Linked DNA regions of Homo sapiens. The protein of the gene in region 1 purifies or fractionates together with the protein of each later gene. This does not show direct contact. Each region holds a gene or a part of one and is shown on either strand. Other genes may lie near its edges.

Region 1 (3,731 bases):
TCTAGAATGGTTCTCTATTATTCTTATTGTTTTGCCTATTTTTTGTTTGTTTTCTGGAAGATTTCCTCATCTTTATCATCAAATCTTTTTTTCTTTTTCATGGTCTGTTTCCATTACATTTTTTTTTGTTTTTGGTTTGTCTTGGTTGCTGCCTTTCATCTAGAGGTTTTCATCAGAGTCTGATGATTCTTGGCTGTCTTTGGATTTAAAAGTGGGTTAAAAAGCCACTTGGAAGTTCTCTGCCTGTGCAGAACTTATCCCTTGGCTTCCACTATCTGAGCTAATTTATTGAGACAGTCTCAAATGTCATTACAATTGACCCTTGAACAATGTAGAGATTGAAAACCTATGTATAACTTTTGACTTCCCAAAACTTAACCTGAAGCCTTACTGATAACAGTTATTTGTATTATATGTATTATATACTGTATTCTTACAATAAAGTATGCTAGAGGAAAAAAAAAAGTTAAGAAATATCATAAGGAGGCCGGGCACGGTGGTTCTTGCCTGTAATCCCACATTTTGGAAGGCCAAGGCAGGTAGATCACTTGAGGTCAGGAGTTCGAGACCAGCCTGGCCAACATGGCAAAACCCCATCTCTACTAAAAATACAAAAATTAGCCAAGCATGGTGGTGCATGCCTGTAATCCCACCTACTCGGGGGCTGAGGCAGGAGAATCACTGGAACCTGGGAGATGGCGGTTGCAGTGAGCCTAGGTCACACCACTGCACTCCAGCCTGGGTGACAGAACAAGACTCCATCTCAAAAAAAAAAATTATAAGAAAGAGAAAAATATATTTATTCATTAAGTGGAAATAGATCATCACAAAGGTCTTCATCCTCATCTTCACATAGAGTAGGCTAAGGAAGAGAAGGAGTTGATCTTGCCATCTCAGGTCTGGCAGAAATAGAAGAAACTCCACATAGACGTGTTATTCGAACCCTTGTTATTCCAAGGTTAGCTGTATCTTTAGGTCTTACTTAGGCTGGTCAAATTAACCATAAAAAATTCTATGCGTTCCTGCCTAAAGGATTTAGACCTACCTGTCAGTGTTCTGAGAACCCCCTACATGAAGTACAACTGCCTAGATATGAAGATACCACCACCACCACCACCGCTATCCATACCTAGCCTAAAGATGTAGAGCCCTCTGCTGGGGCTGAGGAGGAGCTGTGGGGTGCTTTCTAAGTAGACTTTCCACCAGCCCGTCTGGTTTGTCTAGTCCCATTTTCACCCCACATCCAGAGTTACTATTATTACCAACTCCTGAGCATTTGCAGGATTCTGTAGTATGAATTGGGATGCTTCTTGGCTTTCCCTACAGCCAGCTTAGAATTGTGCTTTCTCAGGTCTACTAAGTTCAATACCATCCTTCAGCCTGCTCTCCAGTTTCCAACATGTTACTGTTAAGGCCTTTTCCCTCATTTTCTATCATTGTGAGTATGTGCCCTTTGAAAACCCTTTTGCTGTCATTTTTGTGGGATTTGGTGAAGAAGCAGTGGTAAATGCATGTATTATTCTGTCATCTAAGTGTTCACTGTTAGCTCTTCTCATAAGTGGGATGCTAGGCCTCAGTTGCTTTCTCTGTGAAATGAGAGGATCATACTAACTGGATAATTTGTAAAATTCCTTTCATCCCAGACTTTTTATGATTCTGTAGTACTTACTGTTAAGTCAAACACAGTTCTTCCTTTTTTCTGAAATAATTTCTCTTTGTCTTAAATCCTTAAAGCTGCTAGCAGAAGAAAGTCTTCCCACAACCCCATTTTATTTCATATTGGGAAAACACAGGCAACAGCAGGATGAAAAACTAAACGAAACTTTAGAGAATGAGCTGGTACAACTACCCTTAACAGAAAACATACCCGCAATTAGTGAGGTAAGTAATTATGAAAACCATGTGAAACAGATTAAATGCACTTAAAGCACCTGAAGTTGGAGTTTTGACACAGTCAATCTGTAATTTGTATGCTGTACAACTTTAATACCCAAACTAAATAACTAACAACAAACCGAGTAACTTAACCTTGTGATCTGGGATTGTTTTGTCCTGGACCTGGTGTAGGGATAGGGGTGGTTGTTGGCATAAATGTAGGAAGGTAGAAATGTATTTTTCTTTGGTTTGGCTTTTGTATAGGGAAAGCCTTTTCATGTTTCACTCTTGGCATTTACAATAAAAGGGACTCCGTGAGGACACTGTAGGAACAGACTGCGGTGGAGGATAAGCTTTTTAATTGCAACCGTGTTTTCTGTTTGACTCCAGCTTCTTCACACTCCAGCCCATGTCCTGCCATCTGCTGCTTTCCTGTGCTCCATGTTTGTAAATTCATTGCTGCTGTCTAAAGAGACTAAGAGGTAAAGCAGTTCTTAAGACAGGTTTGGACACTCTCTTTTGGGAAACAGGATCGTTTGTGTTTATCCTTTTTTAGAGTATTCTTCCACTGTATTTCTTTTTATTTCATAAGTTTTAAAATAGATTTAAAGGCTATAGGATTATTAAGTCAAGTAACATACATTGAAAATAAGTTTCAAAAAAGATCTTGTATGTGTGTGTTTTAAGGGCTTGGTACATAATTTAAAATTACATGTTTGTAAATTCACCTGCTCTTTTATAAATAACCCATAATTTTTAAAGTGTACTTAGTAACAAAATTCTTCATTTACTTTGTGTGATTATATTTCTACATAGGTGTCAAATTAGAAAGTTACTGTTTAGAAACATTTAATAGTGTTTATATTTTATTCTGTTATTGTTAAAGTGCTAAGGAAATTCCTGAAGATGTAGATATGGAAGAAGAAAAAGAAAGTGAAGATTCAGATGAAGAAAATGATTTTACCGAAAAAGTCCAGGATACAAGTAACACAGGTTTAGGAGAAGACATTATACATCAGTTGTCAAAATCTGAAGAAAAAGAACTGAGAAAATTTAGGAAAATAGACTACAGCTGGATAGCTGCCCTTTAAGCCTTGGAGATGGGGAGGATCCTTGGACTTTGTGTTTTTGATTGTATGTTGATATTCTAAAAACATCTATTTTAATGTTATTTCTGTTCTAAAAATAAGATAATAAATATTAACAAACTTTGCTTTTTTAAAAAACTGATAATATGAACATGTATTTGCATCATGCTTTACAGTTACTGGATCATTGATATACCACATCATCTCATTTTTTTATTTTGAGTCACACATCAGCCTTATAAAACAAGTAGGTATTTTCTTCACAGGTGATACAGCAGAACTGAGACTTGAACTGTACAGCATATGTCCCCTAAGCTGCAGTTTGGAGATACGAAAAGATTTGAAAGTTAAAAGGCTTTGTTGACATAATTGTTTTAACACAAATTCATTTGGTGGCCAAATGTGACCTGAGCTGGAGTGAGGTTTCTTTAGTCCTGATTTATTCCTCTTAGTGTATTTATTTCTCTCAGAGAAATTTAGAGACGAGTTGATTATGTGGTGTTCCACAAACCTCACTGAGGATATTATATAATAATATGGGCTGCCTAAAATTCTGAATTCAGATGATCTGACCCAAAGTCCAGTTGCTAGTAGAAAACGATCCAGATCCCCTGTTTTAGTTAAAGCAGTGAAGCTGCTACATCTTAACCACCTAGCATTTTGAGTTTTCCACTTCCCTAATGCACTTTTGTAAAATTTATATTTAGAAGTTAGCACAAAAACAAAGCGTTTGTAAGAGCACATCTCAATGAATGTTCACAAAAATTG
Region 2 (3,652 bases), on another chromosome or scaffold:
TGTTGTTTGTTTGAGACGGGATCTTGCTATGTTGCGCAGGCTGGTCTTGAACTCCTAGGCTCAAGCAATCCTCCTGCCTCGGCTTCCCGAGCAGCTGGGATTATAGGCATCAGCCACTGCACCCAGCCCTGGATAATTCTTGCTGAAGAATGTGTGGAAGCTGCCCTGCGCATTGTAGGGTGGTTAGCAGCATCCCTGGCTTTTACCCACTAGGCGCTAGTAGCAGCCTACCCCTCCTTCTCCCGAGCTGTGACAAACAAAAATGTCTCCAGACATTGCCAGATGTCCCCTGGTGGGCAAAATAATCCTTAAGAAGCACTGATCTACAAACTGTGATGCATACTGGGTTTTATATTATTACTAGATAAAATTGTCTCTAATGGCCAGGTGCGGTAATCCCAGCACTTTGGGAGGCCGAGATGGGCAGATCACAAGGTCAGGAGTTCGAGACCAGCCTGGCCATTATGGTGAAACCACATCTCTACTAAAAATACAAAAATGAGCCAGGCATGGTGGCATGCGCCTGTAGCCCCAGCTATTCGGGAGGCTGAGGCAGAAGAATCGCTTGAACCCAGGAGGCAGAGGTTGCAGTGAGCCGAGATTGTGCCATTGCACTCCAGCCTGGGTGACAGAGCAAGACTCCATCTCAAAAAAAAAAAAAAAAGTCTCTAATTCTCACTGTATACCATTACCACTTTGGTGCCATTTGTCCCAGTCCATGTCACCATATCCTGTTTACTTTCAAATCTGTCTCTTTAGGCTCAATTTCTCTCTGTATTCTCAGACCCGTATTTCCCATTGCCTGCATCTTGAGATTGATTTGTTCAAAATCAGACTTACTCTCCTCTCCCCAAAGTGTTCTTCCTTTATTCTTAGTCTCCCTGCTCATGACTCTACCAGTTATTCACTTAACCTTTCTCAACTCCTCTCTCCACCTCTCCCATGAAATTTGCTGCCTAAATCTAAATCCAGGCTCCGCTATCCCAAGTACCATGTCCATAATGTGTAAGCGAGTTCATCTCACCTGGCTTGCCACTGCAGTTCTTACTTGTCACCCCATGCCGCTGCCTTTCAGGTGCCCTTTCTTAGCAGCTCTAATCATGTCACTCCTCGCACACCCAGAGTCCTCATGATCATGCCCTGTCTGCCTCTGCAGGCTCATCCCCCCCATTTCTTGAACTTCAGGCTCTGGCCATACCAAACAGCCTGCAGGCCCCCCGCCCCCACTGCCTTACGTGGCATTTTCTTTTTTTTTTTTTTGAGACGGAGTCTCGCTCTGTTGCTCAAGGCTGGAGTGCAATGGCGCTATCTCGGCTCACGGCAACCTCCACCTCCCGGGTTCAAGCGATTCTCCTGCCTCAGCCTCCCAAGTAGTGGGGATTGCAGGCGCCCACTACCATGCCTGGCTAATTTTTGTATTTTTAGTAGAGACGGGGTTTCTCCATGTTGGTCAGGCTGGTCTCAAACTCCCAACCTCAGGTGATCCACCCGTCTCGGCCTCCCAAAGTGCTGGGATTACAGGTGTGAGCCACTGCACCCGGCCTAATTTTTGTATTTTTAGTAGAGTTGGGGTTTCGTCATGTTGGTCAGGCTGGTCTCAAACTGCTGACCTCAGGTGATCTGCCCACCTCAGTCTGCCAAAGTGCTGGGATTACAGGCGTGAACCACCACGCCGGGCTTGCCTGACATTTTCATTCTTCAGACTGCACTTATCTCCCTCCCCCACCTCCAGCCCAGGCATGTGGAGCAGTCACTCCCTTCTCTCCCACCACACCTGGAGAGACCTGGGTCTTCATCCTTATCCTGTGCTGCAGGGGTTGGTCTGTGCATCTGTCTCCCATATTAAACAATCGGTGCCTCCAAGCCAGGTAGCACAGCTTATTATCTCTGCCCACTCCCCAGTGCCTCACATGGAGTGGGCGCTTTGTAAATGTGTGTGGAGTAGTAAGTGGAAATAACCCAGAGCAGAAAGAAGCTACCTGGGACTTAAATGTAAAGTAGCCACAGGTTTTGTTTTGCTTTGCTTCAGTTCAGCAAAAATTTACTAAGCACCAACTAGGTCATGGATGCTAGGAATAGAAAAAAGAACAAAGTAGGATGTTTGCCTTACAGAATTCACCTCACGTCCAGTATGAGATGGGAGTATGAACAAACAGTCATGCAGAGTGATGAGTGCAAACATGGACTATAAAGCGGCCATAGAGAATGAACTGTGTTTGTGTTTAGAGAAGACACACTCCCCACCCCTGAACAGGCTTCTTAAAAGTACTAGAAAGGTACTGTCTTTGTCCTAGCCTTTAAACTCTTACTGTATTTGGAAGGCTTCTATTAGTATGTGACTTTTTAAATGATTTTTTTTTTTGAGACGGAGTTTCACCCTTTTGCCCAGGCTGGAGTGCGGTGGTGCAATCTCAGCTCACTGCAACCTCCGCCACCTGGGTTCAAACGATTCTCCTGCCTCAGCCTCCCAAGTAACCGGGATTACAGGCACCAGCCACCACACCCAGTGAACTGTTGTACTTTTAGTAGAGACGGGGTTTCACCACGTTGGCCAGGCTGATCTCAAACTCCTGACCTCAGGTGATCCACCCGCATCGGCCTCCCAAAGTGTTGGGATTACAGGCGTGAGCCACCACATCCGGCCTTTAAAATGATTTTTGCTTGACCTTGCTAACTATATTACTTGAGGTTGGCAGGCTCCCTTACCAGATTGCAGTGCCTGTATGAGTTAGGGGTGAACACATGCTCTCCCTGGCCCAAATTGGCATTCGCCAGTGATTTTATCATCGGCTGCGTCCTGCTGATTGTGCAGCCCCCTATTGAGAATAATGGTGTGAGTGGGACACAGTCCTGCCTCCTGTGGGTGATCTGAAGTCTTTGACTCACCAGTTCGTGTGTTCTTTGCTGTATTCATGCATTGTTACATAATTCAACAAATTAGAATCATTTCATATACAGAATATGCACTCTAAAGAAATTTTGACCTTTTTATAGAGTTGGTAATAATAATAATCTTTATGTCAGTAGAGTTTATTTTTCCTATCAGTCTTTTTCTCTTTTTGAGATGGGGTCTCACTCTATTGCCCAGGCTGGTCTCAAACTCTGGGCTCAAGAGATCCTCCCACTTCAGCCTCCCAAAAGTGCTGGGATTACAGGCATGAGCTACTGCACGCAGCCATTTTCCTACCAGTCTTAACACTGGCCACACGTGCTTCCCTTCCTGTGCGCAGTCCCTTTCAGCTTGTAACTTAACTATTAATAAATACAACTGTATTCTTTAGCTGGGGTATAAGATAACTGATCCATAGGGAAACCCACACATGGTGTTCAGGAGCCATTGTTTAGGACAATGAATAAGATAAAAGTTTTGGAGCCGGGCTTGGTGGCCCACGCCTGTAATCCCAGCACTTTGGGAGGACGAGGCAGGTAGATCACTTGAAGCCAGGAGTTCTTGAGCAGCCTGGCCAACATGGTGAAACCCCATCTCTACTAAAAATACAAAAATTAGCTGGGTGTGGTGGCAGGTGCCTGTAGTCCCAGCTACTCGGGAGGCTGAGGCAGGAGAATCGCTTGAACCCGAGAGGCAGAGGTTGCAGTGAGCTGAGATGGCGCCACTGCACTCCAGCCTGGGCAACAGAGCGAGACTCCATCT

What was found. Proteins that work in one complex are often made in the same cells at the same time.
Region 2: the proteins of WDR75 (region 1) and DCAF4 purify together in Homo sapiens (co-immunoprecipitation; one large-scale study listed by IntAct). This does not show direct contact.

What each region holds. Positions count from the first base shown.
Region 1 is NC_000002.12:189,472,452-189,476,182, forward strand, and holds the end of WDR75 (WD repeat-containing protein 75), read left to right. Parts: intron 1-1,734; coding exon 1,735-1,881; intron 1,882-2,265; coding exon 2,266-2,357; intron 2,358-2,761; coding exon 2,762-2,966; 3' UTR 2,967-3,101; downstream 3,102-3,731. UniProt on the Homo sapiens protein: Ribosome biogenesis factor. Part of the small subunit (SSU) processome, first precursor of the small eukaryotic ribosomal subunit.
Region 2 is NC_000014.9:72,932,911-72,936,562, forward strand, and holds part of DCAF4 (DDB1- and CUL4-associated factor 4), read left to right. Parts: intron 1-2,112; exon of another isoform or gene 2,113-2,276; intron 2,277-3,652. UniProt on the Homo sapiens protein: May function as a substrate receptor for CUL4-DDB1 E3 ubiquitin-protein ligase complex.